3 linked regions of the Homo sapiens genome follow. The protein of the gene in region 1 interacts with the protein of each later gene in a pairwise test. Each region holds a gene or a part of one and is shown in the gene's direction. Other genes may lie near its edges.

Region 1 (3,753 bases):
CTAAGCAGCTTCCAGAAGCCTTGGCCATGCCAGCACCTTTCCCAGATACTTTTTTATTTTTTCCATTATTTTGTTGGTAATAAGGAAAAGTCATTTTTTGCACAGAACAGACGGTATTTTCTTTGCTCCCCACAATGTTCAAGCATTTCGTGGCTTCCGGCCTGAGAACAGAGCCAAATCCTTCCCTTGTGCAGATGCCTCGTGAAGTTAGAAGCAGCCAGGGAAACCGAGTCTGTGCCTCAGTTTCCCCTGTGGGATGAACAGTCGCTCTTGTGCTGGGTCAGACTGGGGCTTCAGGATGGATGGGCCAGCCCTAGAGGAGCACCCAGACCTGGTCATGTAATAAACAGGTAACATAAGAGTCACAGAAAGGGTCTGGGCTCACACCTGTCATCCCAGCACTTTGGGAGGCCGAGGTGGGAGGATCACTTGAGCTTAGGAGTTTGAGACCAGCCTGGGCAACATAGTGAGACCTCGTCTCTAAAAATAAACTTTAAAAAAGAAAAAAAAAAGAGTCACAGGGATTGGGACAGGGGAGGGCAAGATCCCTTCCAAGGCCAGGGTAGTCAGAGAGGCTTCCTGGAGGAGGAGACAGGGTGGTGGCGCTGAGCCTGGAAGGACAAGGCAGAAGAGATGCCTGCAGCGAGGGCATTCCAGGTGGAAGGAACAGTTTGGGCAAAGGCCTGGATGGGGGAAGACTCAGATCTTGGCGCAGGAGTCAATCTCCAAAAACAACCTGACCTGGAATTCACCTAAAGGTAATTTGAATGTAATGTAACCGCCAGCTCAGATATACTATTCTTCTTAGAAGGAAACAGAAATAAAGGAACAGGGAAAGGAGACAGGAGCAGAGGTCTTGGAGATGAAAAGCAAAAGCCTCTCTGAAGTTGTCAAAACACTCAAGTGTCGGCCAGGTGTGGTGGCTCACGTCTGTAATCCCAGGACTTTGGGAAGCCGAGGGGGGCAGATCACTTGAGGTCAGGAGTTCGAGACCAGACTGGCCAACATGGTGAAACCCCATCTCTACTAAAAATACAAAAATCAGCCAGGTGTGGTGGCATGCACCTGTAGTCCCAACTACTCGGGAGGCTGAGGCAGGAGAATTGCTTGAATCTGGGAGGCAGAGGCTGCAGTAAGCCGAGATTGTGCCACTGCACTCCAGCCTGGGCAACAGAGTGAGACTTTGTCTCAAAAAAAAGAAAAGAAAAGAAAAGAAAAACTCAAATGTAAGATCAGAGCTTTAGGGCGCCACAGGCCTTGGTTCCAGGGAGCTGCAGGACCTCTGTCCACAAACGAACCAACGGCGCCGCACCGTGTGATTTTGGAGACGGTGCCAGAGAGGGGGCGGCACCAGGATTGACAAGTGGGACACATGGGCTTGGGGCTGGGGAGGTGGATCCTAGTTCAACTCCGGAAGGATGCTCTCCTGGCAAGTGTGGGAAGGGGGTGCTCCCTGTGACCAGAGGTGACAAACGCAGGCCAGTGGAGGCTGAGGGGATGCAACCATGCGTTGGAGACATTTCCTCAGCCTTTGGATTTTGGAACCCTCAAACAACAGCAAAGATAACCTTAATCCAACCATTGTGGGCATTTTTACCATCGTCTTGGGAGGGACAGAGGTGGACAGACGTCCCTGCTTAGGGATGGGACGGGCAGGGGAACAGAGGCTTCTCTCTCTTTGTCTTGCTTCCCGTTCCCTCCCGAAGTTGATCTCTTCCGTTTCCTGGCAACACCCATTGAGCACTTACTGTATGCAGACCCTGAGACCCACTGCCCCCTCCCCAACCTCACTGGGCCACCCATGTCAGCCCGGGAGGGACCTGACCTCCCTCACAGGCCCAAAGTTATGACCTCAGGTAGTGGGGACAGAGGCAGCTGTCTCCTGAGAAGGTGACAGGAGGGTGAGGTCACATCGCTGTCCGTGCAACTCTCTCCATCTGCTTCCTATCTCTCCGCCTGTCTCCCCCGTGTCTCTGTTTCTGGGTCTCTTTCTCATCCCAGATGTCCCTCTCCGTCTGTCTCTCTGTCCCCACCCTCTGCTCCCAACCCGACCCCACGCAACCCCCCCCCCCACTCCCCCTCCACCGCCCCTAACCCCCTCCCTCAATCCTCCGTCCCTTCCCCAGTCCCGGCCCCCGCCCCTCCCCCTTATCCCCTCCCCCATACCCTCTCCCAGTGCAAAAAGCCGGCAGGGGGCGCAGCGGGGCGGCCTTGGCGGCCCGGGGAGGCGGGGCGGGCGGCGGCCGCGTCGGGACCGGCCGCGATGGGACCGGAGGCGGCGCGGGCGGCGGCGGCGCAGACAAAGGCACGGGCGGCGTGGAGGGCGGCGCGGAGGGCGCGGGCCCGGGAGCCAGGGAGCGAGCGGGGCGCCCGGCAGCGCGGAGTCAGCGCCGCGGGGGCCGCACCCGACTCGCGCCTGGACACTCGCGGGGCGCCGACCTGGCAGGGTGAGCCCGGCCTGCCGAGCCTGCGCTGGGAGCGCGGGGGCCTCGAAGTCCCAGGGCCAAGGGGAGGGCGTGGGGGTTCCCCAGAAGTTTCGGACCCGGGACTGGGAGCGGCGCGAGGGGTCCCCAAGTTCCAGGGCTGGAGGGAGCGCGGGGGTCCCGAAGTTCTGGATTCAGGGTCTGAGAGGGGACTGCGTGGGAGGTTCCCAAAGTTCTGGACCCGGCGTTGGAGGAGGCTGCGAAGAGGTCCCCAAAGCTGCGGACCTGGGGTGGGGTACTGGGGTGGGAGGGGTCCGGACGTCCCGGACCCAGGGACTGGAGGGGTGGCAGGGGGTCCTCGAAGTTTAGGAGTCTAGGACAACGCGGAGGACCGGGGTCCCGGACCCAGTTAGAGGAGGAGTCACGAAGGGAGTCCCCGGAGTTACCGACCTGGGGTTGGAGGAGGCAGAAGAGGTGTCCCCCGAAGTTCTGGACCCAGAGACAGGGGGCGTCGCGGGAATCTCGGAAGTTCCAGGGTCAGAGCCCGCGTCCCGGAGTTGGGGCGTGCACTGGGTGTCCTGCCTCGGGTGGGGATGGGATCCTGAATTAATATTAACCCCCCCGTCCCCCGCACTCGGGTGCATGGGATGGGGCCTCATCCACCGGCCAGATTGGGGATCCCGGGCACCGGGCGGTGTCGGACCCCCCTCCGGGAGCCCCGTGGCCGGCGGCATCCGAGGCGCATGACTAGTTGGTGAGTAACTTTCCCCAAACGCTGCAAGTCGCAGCAGGAGCTGCCGGACCGGAAGGGCCTGGGTTCCGGGGACCCCTGTGTTCCCCAACTCCCACCCGGCGCAGGACCCGCCCCCAGTCCAGGCCAGAGCTGCCGCCCCACCCCCACTCAGGGGCTCCGGTTTCAGACCCTGTGACCAGGACAGCAGCTGCCCAGGACAGGATAGGGGGGGCATCCCCCCTTTGACCACAGAGGCCGCTGGGCCAGGGCCTCCCCTCCCCCACCTGTCTTCCCCCTCCTCCAAACTCCTCCTTGGTCCCCTGCAGATTCGGGGTTGCTGAATGGCCCAATGGGGAGGTTGGGGAGCCCTGGTCTCCCAGTGTGGATTCTGCTCTGCCCTCATGGTGGGCATTGGGATTGGCTGTTTGTCTACATCTTGTCTTTTTAACTTGGCTGGGGGCTCCCTGGGGATTTGGACTCTGGACTTCAAGGTGTGCTTCTGCCCTAGGGTGGGAGCTGCTGGGGGTGGGGTCCCTCTGCAGGGTGTAGTGGGGAACTGGTCTCCTGGTACTACACACCTCTCAACGCCCCATTTTT
Region 2 (3,753 bases), on another chromosome or scaffold:
TGTAATTAAGTACGAATGAATGATTATTGGGAAGTGAGGGATATGAATGCTCCATGTTTTTGGGGGAAAACGAAAGTAGTCTTTCATTTTGTTTTTGTTGTTGTTGTTGAGAAGGGGTCTCACTCTGTAGCCCAAGCTGCAGTGCAGTGGTGCGATCTTGGCTTACTGCAAGCTTTGCCTCTGGGGCTCAGGTGATTCTCCTGCCTCAGCCTTCCAAGTAGCTGGGACTAGAGGTGTGCGCCACCATACTCGGTTAATTTTTTTGTATTTTTAGTAGAGACGGTTTCACCATGTTGCCCTGGGTGGTCTCGTATGCTTGAATTCAGGCGATCCACCTGCCTTGGCCTCCCAAAGTGCGGGGACTACAGACGTGAGCCACCGTGCCCGACCAGTAGTGACATGCAGTGATGAGGCCATATAATGTAATGCTCTATTAAAGGACTCCTTTTTTTAGTTAAGAAATCTAGCAATCTGATTTTTTATGTAGTTCACTGAGGAATCTCAAATTATTATTACCTTTGGTTCCATGATTATATTTTTGGGCATTACCTGATATATGAAAAAACTTTATATAAAAATAATGTTGTTTATGATATCAAAATTTTAGAAACAATGTCTAATAGAGAAGTGGACATAACCTTTTTTTTCTACATGTTTGTATTTTACATATTTTAGGTGAACATTACTCTTACAGTGGTAAGCAAGTAGTCAACTTGTATAAAAAAAGAGCAAATAATTTTTAGCAATCTTGAGTCACCAATAAACTAGAATTTTTTATGCAGTCTGTAAATAAATGATCATAATTTAATCATTTTTGATAGAACAGTTCAATAAGTAGTACATAACTGTTAGATCCCTAAAAATTGCTGTAGCCCAGCACTTGTTTTATATATTTTATATACATATTATATTTTATATTGCTTTATATTAGCAAGTTACGGAGAAGAGAAGTTGAGTTTTTCTAGCAGCAACCAGTATTTAGTTGTACTCAATTATTTTCATCCGTTTTTTTTTTTTTTGGTAGAACATGCCCTATTATATGGCAGTATAAATTAATCTGCTTTTATATTGTCTGGAAAAAAATCCTAGAGAGATTTGATTTGTATCTTATCACTGAAGATTCCATAGAATATATTGATTTAGGTTCATTTTTAAATTTTAGAAATGTAATACATAGATTGCCTTTTGTATATGAATAATTGATCTATCGTCTAACTTTTAATTCTGTGTTATTCAGTGTTTTGTTATTTAATAATAACTTTCCTTCTTCAAGGAGACAAAACAACTAGAGATTAAAAGTGGGGTATGGAAAAATAATACATTGGTATATTATAATTCATAATTAGGAGATAGCTTGAAAACCTAATGTTTCTGCATTATAGAGATTTGATATATGGAGGCTATGTTTTTTAATTGAGACAGGGCTTTTGATTCTTATCAAAACTGATTGTCTTACAATTTAGACAAATGTAATACGGAATTAATAATATCTTTAAATGTTTTCTTCAATTGTGCTTGGGTTTCTCATAAAATATTTTTTACAGGGGTTCAACAGAAATATTTGGTGGTTACCTGCAACTATGAAGCTAGGAAACTTGGAGTTAAGAAACTTATGAATGTCAGAGATGCAAAAGAAAAGTGTCCACAGTTGGTATTAGTTAATGGAGAAGACCTGACCCGCTACAGAGAAATGTCTTATAAGGTTACAGGTACAAATGATAAGCAATGTACTTTTAGCATTAATTTTTATGTAGGATGCCTGTTCATTACATGAATTTTTTAATAAATGTAAAATAACATAAGTCAAGATGCTTTTTCCTAATAACTTCTTATTTTGGGTCTTGTCAACTTTAAAAATTATGTGAAAGGATAACTGTATGCTATGAATAGTATTTTTAAGAAGATGTATAGTTGGAAGTAATTTTAACTCTTATTATTGATGTTTATATAACAGGGAAAAGTGGAAAACAAAGTTTAAAAGTGAGAAAATGGGAAACTGTACTGTAAAAGATGCCAGGTCTTTAAAATTTTAAGTTTAAATGAATTACGAAGAAATATGTTGTTTTCTAATGCACTAATGATAATTGAAAGAGGCTTCTGTAACATTTGATCAACATAATTAAAAACTGATTTCTTATGAAATATTAATAAAAATATTGGATATATTAATATTTTCTTAGGTTTTATATATATACTAAATATTACAATGTAGCTAAACTTTCCTATGCTAAGGTTTGGGTTTAAATCTTAGTGTTATAGTAAATTACAGGAAAAATGAAAATGAGTGTGCACTGGCACATTGCAAATATAGTAGGTTGATGCAAAAGTAATTGTGGCTTTCACAATTACTTTTAATTGCGAAAACCGCAATTACTTAATATATAGTGTAAAAATGTATAATGATCAGCTTTGCAATTATTTGTCTTTTTTACTTTTTTTGTTTTTCTTTTATGATAGCAATTTTCAGATGACTGGATTAAATGTCTATAATATACAAAGACCTCTTAGAAATTAACAGGAAAAATAAACCTAATAACAAAGGACAAAGGATATGAATAGGCAGTTGACAAGAAGAGCCTAACCCAGTGTCTAACAATTATAGGGAAAAAATGCTCAAATTCATTAGTGGCCAAGGAAATTTGAATTAGTAAGATATTTTATATCTGTCATACTTGCCCAAAATTAAAAGCAATGTGAGAAAAAAGTATCAAGAACACTTACTGAGTTTAAAGATGAATGTTCTTCAATCCAGTGATATCATTGCTGGGAGTTTATCAAATAGAAATAAAATCATAAGGCTGGGTATTGTGGCTCATACCTGTAATCCCAGCACTTTTGGAGCTGAGGTAGGAGGATTGCTTGAGCCTAGAAGCTCGAGGCTGTGAGCCGTGATTGTGTCATTGCATTGCAGCCTGAGTGCGCATGACAGAGTGAGACTCTTGTCTCTAAAAAAGAAAGAGAACCACAAGTACATAAAGACATATGTACAACAATGTTTATCATAGCATGGTTTATGATTGTCAAAAGTATGGAAGGAAAAATGCCCATCAAGAGAAATAGCCAAATAAACTAAAACATCTGTATAATGGATATTATATAGCCATTAAAAAGAATTCATTGGTGCAATACTATTTGACTGATGGAGATAGGGCTTGTTGAGTGAATAAAAGGCAAGGTACAAAGTCATGTATCATGTTTTTCCAAATGTGTAAAATTATGGCCTAAATGCCTCCTCTCATATTCATCATATAGATGAAGAAGAGTAAATCATTGTTTTGATTTGCAGTTTTCCATGAGTAAGGTTGAGTATTTTTTCATATATTTTTGGTCATTTATGTATTTTTTTCTGTTAACGTATTCACTTGCACCTGTTTTTAATTTGGGTTGTTCATCTTTTTCTAAGTACTAAGTACCTAGTACTTTTTGTGTTAGGTATTTTTTGAAAAAAGTTACTTTATCAATTTTTCTCACAGTATTTTTCTGAGTTGAAGTAGGCGCGTAGCCAGTTAGTCCTTTACTGTATTTATCTCTGATCTGTTTATAACCTTATTATTTATTTCATATTTTGATGCTACTGCATATATACCTTTCTTCAAGGTATTTTTTTTTTCTGTAATTACAGACTCCTCTTTTGGGCCCTATATAATTATATGTTTAATAAATGTATCTTGCTTATGAAGTTGATACCAAGAAAGAGGTTAACTTCAGGAATGGAGGCTGGGCATGGTGGCTTATGCCTGTAATCCCAACACT
Region 3 (3,753 bases), on another chromosome or scaffold:
GAGACTCACAGTTCACCAGAAGGCAGAGGCAAAAATCAGAGTTGCCAATTAAAATTATTTCTAAAGATGGGTTCACTGCTTCCTATTCCCAAGCCTTTCTGAGACTCCATGGGGTGAATCACTTGCTTCTTTTCTGTATCTCCTCCTGCAGGCATTTAAGCTTTGTAATTTAGTTACATGCATACTTATATTTATCTCTTTCCAACAATTTTGTTCATTTCTGATATCTTCTATTGTCTTCCCTCCCAATTTCTGCCCTTTTCAGTTTTTACTATTATCTTGTGGTTTTAGGAAAAAGCAGATATAAATATGTGTTTAAGCAATGCTATGGTTTGAAGGTTTTTGTCCCCTTCAAAATTTTTGTTGATTCCTAATCCCCTATGCAACAGTATCAGGAGGTGTAACGTTTAGAAGGTGATTCAGGAGGACTCCTCATGAATGGGATTTGATGCCCTTAGGGCTTGATGGAGGAAGTTTGACCCCCTCTTGCCCTTCCACCTTCTGCCATGTGAGGACACAGTGCTCAAGGCATCACTGTGGAAGCAGAGACAGGAACTTCACCAGACAACAAACCTGCTGGCACCTTGATCTTAGACTTCCCAGCCTCCAGAACTATGAGAAATCAATTTCTGTTCTTTGTAAATTACCCAGTCTGTGGCATTTTGTTATAATGACACAAACTAAGACAATCAATCAGAGTTATATTTCCTTGTAAGTATAAATTTTATTTTTTTATTTTTATTTTTATTTTTTTTAAGAAGGAGTCTCGCTCTGTCACCCAGGCTGGAGTGCAGTGATGGGATCTCGGCTCACTGCAAGCTCCGCCTCCCGGGTTCACACCATTCTCCTGCCTCAGCCTCCCAAGTGGCTGGGACTACAGGCACCCGCCACCACGCCCAGCTAATTTTTTGTATTTTTAGTAGAGAGGGGGTTTCACTGTGTTAGCCAGGATGGTCTCAATCTCCTGACCTCATGATCCACCCACCTCGGCCTCCCAAAGTACTGCAATTACAGGCATAAGCCACCACGCCCAGCCGTAAGTATAAATTTTAAAATCACTTCTTAATTAATATAATAGATGAAATGACCCACAGAAGTATCCACTCACAGAAAGGACCATTTCTAAAGGACCAGTTTGGCCTATAAAGAAAATACAATAGCAGACCTTCACAAATTTTCTAACATCAGAAAAGAAAAAATATTTAGATATTAAACTGAATCAAATGTGATGGTCTTACCCAGACAAAGGAAGACTCAGCACCCCATTTCCAAGTTAACTGGGAGCTTTTGTGTTGCTCTTTTTGCCCCCCTTATATTTGATTCTGCTACCTGACCTTTAAACAGAAAAGCTTTCTCTTCTTGCTATCTATGTTTGTTATTTAAAAGATCAAAATATTAAACTCTTGCTATATCTATTTGTCATTTGAAAGATCAAAATATTAAATGATTGTGAAACATTTTTTGCAACTGTAAGAGGGTTGATACTTTTCCTGAATATTATTCATTCAACATTCATTTATTTCTTTGACAAATATTTAAGAGATGCTCATGATGTCCTAGGCATTGAGCTAAGAACTCAATGTTGCAATGTGGATAAGATCCAGTCCCTGTGTGTTCATACTTATTTAATACTATTATAGACAAGGCCTTTAATACATACCATAGTCATATATCAATTTTTAATTAGCAATATGAAATAAGAGAACAATGGGACTTTCCACTCAATTTGACAGGTGGCTAAATTTTCAGTTACTGAATTTACTATTTTAGGGTAATCTAGCACATGACCAAAATTTAAATGCACAGAACAGAAGATCAGAGTAAGAAGAGCTTCCATTTGGATTATCACTTTTTCTACTTGGAGTCACATACTGTACTTTAAATTGATTAAGAACATGTTAAAGGTCCAGGTGGTGATTTCCAGCTACAAGTCCAAAGTATAGAAGAATGTGTTTAAATCCTACGTTTATCAGATCCATAAATATAGTTCCTTCTATGTTAAGTGGCTTTATTTCTAAGAACCCAGCCCTCGGTCCTGGGGGTGCTTCCCAGCCCGCTGCTGGAATTCCTGATCGTGGCAGTCTGCTGAAACATGAGCTCAGTTACCAAATATAGCTGAGTGGAGTAAGAGGACAGATGAGAGTCTGAGGCCACAGTTGCCTCAAAGTGACCACGGACCAGGCAGTCTCTAATGAATAGGCAAGGCCACAACCTCCATTCTCCCAGAAAAGAAGAAATGCTCATCTGAAATTCATCACCTCTCTGGAGTCTTCAAACTGACCAAGCATTGAAAAGGTCTGTAAGGTGTATCTTAATATACTAACTAGTAGGGCAACATTTTAAGGACTTAAAAAAAAAAAAACTAAAAATACAAAAGTTTTTCTGAAGATATGATACTATTTACAAGATACCTTAATTATTCTTTTGCTTGGAGAGGAAACGTAATGAGAATGTTACGGTTTTGCCAAAAACAGATAATACGTAAGATTTGCCTGCCCACTTCATCTCTGCCTTTGCTGTCAGAGAATTACACTTTCTGTTATAAGCTTAAGCATGCTAAGATGGTGCTATCAATTCCAAAAGGATTAAATGTATTTATGGAGCCAGCTTTTGTCAAGATCGTGTATGTGTTATGTTTCACAGAAAAGGAAAACGCAGCTTTCTAGACCCTCACCCATATTTAAGCTAGATAAGTGATGATGGCTTAAAGTGATAGACCTTAGATTTCAGTAACATTATAAATTGTTAATTACACTTTCAAAAGATTCTAAAAGTAACTCACTGGACATAATTAAATGAGTTGGGATAGTAACAGCAGGTATTTTAAATTATATTCATGCATAAAATTTACATACATATTTTTAATAAGATAACGCTTACTAAGGGAAACCACAGTGCAATCTCGAGTCCAGTCAAGTTTAAACATCACAGAATAATTTTTATCATGTTGTTTTAAGTTGCACATGAAATTGTCTTGAATCCAATATAGGAGGTTGACATAAAATGATTTCAGGCTCATATTACTTATTAACATTTGCTAAAAATACTAATTGCCTTCTAGTATGAATAATGTGGTGACATATAAAGCCATTTCTTGGCAATATAAAACTATTACAAATCTATTCAATCACATATATGCAGAAATTAAATCCTCATTTCATGATAAATGTGCCTTCCAATGTTTTTTCTCACAGAAAGAACTTGAATACTCACCTCAATTATTCAGATTTTTTTTTCAGATTTTTAAAATCAAAGTCTCTTTGACAAGTTATTGCTAACAGCAGAAAAGGCCGATGAGGTTTATCTGGCCACTAACTGCCCTGTAAATACATGATTACACATTCCTAGAATATAAATTAGTCCTCTGGCATCCTAGAATCTGGTATGGATTAGGGTCTGTATCCCAGGGGTTCTGTGTCAGCTCTTCCTCTGGGTTTCTCTGTTATTGCTAGAGCTGAATATTAAAACTGGCCTTATAGCATATTTCACAATAGAATGAGGATCTGGATTGCACTGGACAAGTACAATCACTTTGACCTCCTTACCTCATTTTTTAAAAATGTAGAGGGCAATCATTATTCAGGTTTAAAAATAAATATGACAAGTTCTTTAAGAGATACCAAGTGGAATCTGCAAGGCCCAGACAAGAGCTCCACTTCTTAAACAATATGTGTGTGGAGGCTGTCAAAGGGTATTGCAATTACTGAGCTCCAGTTAGAAATTCAGGCCATCTAGAGTTAATGACTGTGTCCC

The links.
Region 2: the proteins of HOMER3 (region 1) and POLI interact in binary tests that used the Homo sapiens proteins (3 or more experiments, as listed by UniProt).
Region 3: the proteins of HOMER3 (region 1) and PALLD interact in binary tests that used the Homo sapiens proteins (3 or more experiments, as listed by UniProt).

The regions. Positions count from the first base shown.
Region 1 is NC_000019.10:18,939,745-18,943,497, reverse strand, and holds the start of HOMER3 (homer protein homolog 3), read left to right. Parts: upstream 1-2,280; 5' UTR 2,281-2,447; intron 2,448-2,873; exon of another isoform or gene 2,874-3,647; intron 3,648-3,753. UniProt on the Homo sapiens protein: Postsynaptic density scaffolding protein. Binds and cross-links cytoplasmic regions of GRM1, GRM5, ITPR1, DNM3, RYR1, RYR2, SHANK1 and SHANK3.
Region 2 is NC_000018.10:54,272,382-54,276,134, forward strand, and holds part of POLI (DNA polymerase iota isoform a (long)), read left to right. Parts: intron 1-1,544; coding exon 1,545-1,709; intron 1,710-3,753. UniProt on the Homo sapiens protein: Error-prone DNA polymerase specifically involved in DNA repair. Plays an important role in translesion synthesis, where the normal high-fidelity DNA polymerases cannot proceed and DNA synthesis stalls. Favors Hoogsteen base-pairing in the active site.
Region 3 is NC_000004.12:168,494,900-168,498,652, forward strand, and holds the start of PALLD (palladin), read left to right. Parts: upstream 1-2,152; 5' UTR 2,153-2,295; intron 2,296-3,753. UniProt on the Homo sapiens protein: Cytoskeletal protein required for organization of normal actin cytoskeleton. Roles in establishing cell morphology, motility, cell adhesion and cell-extracellular matrix interactions in a variety of cell types.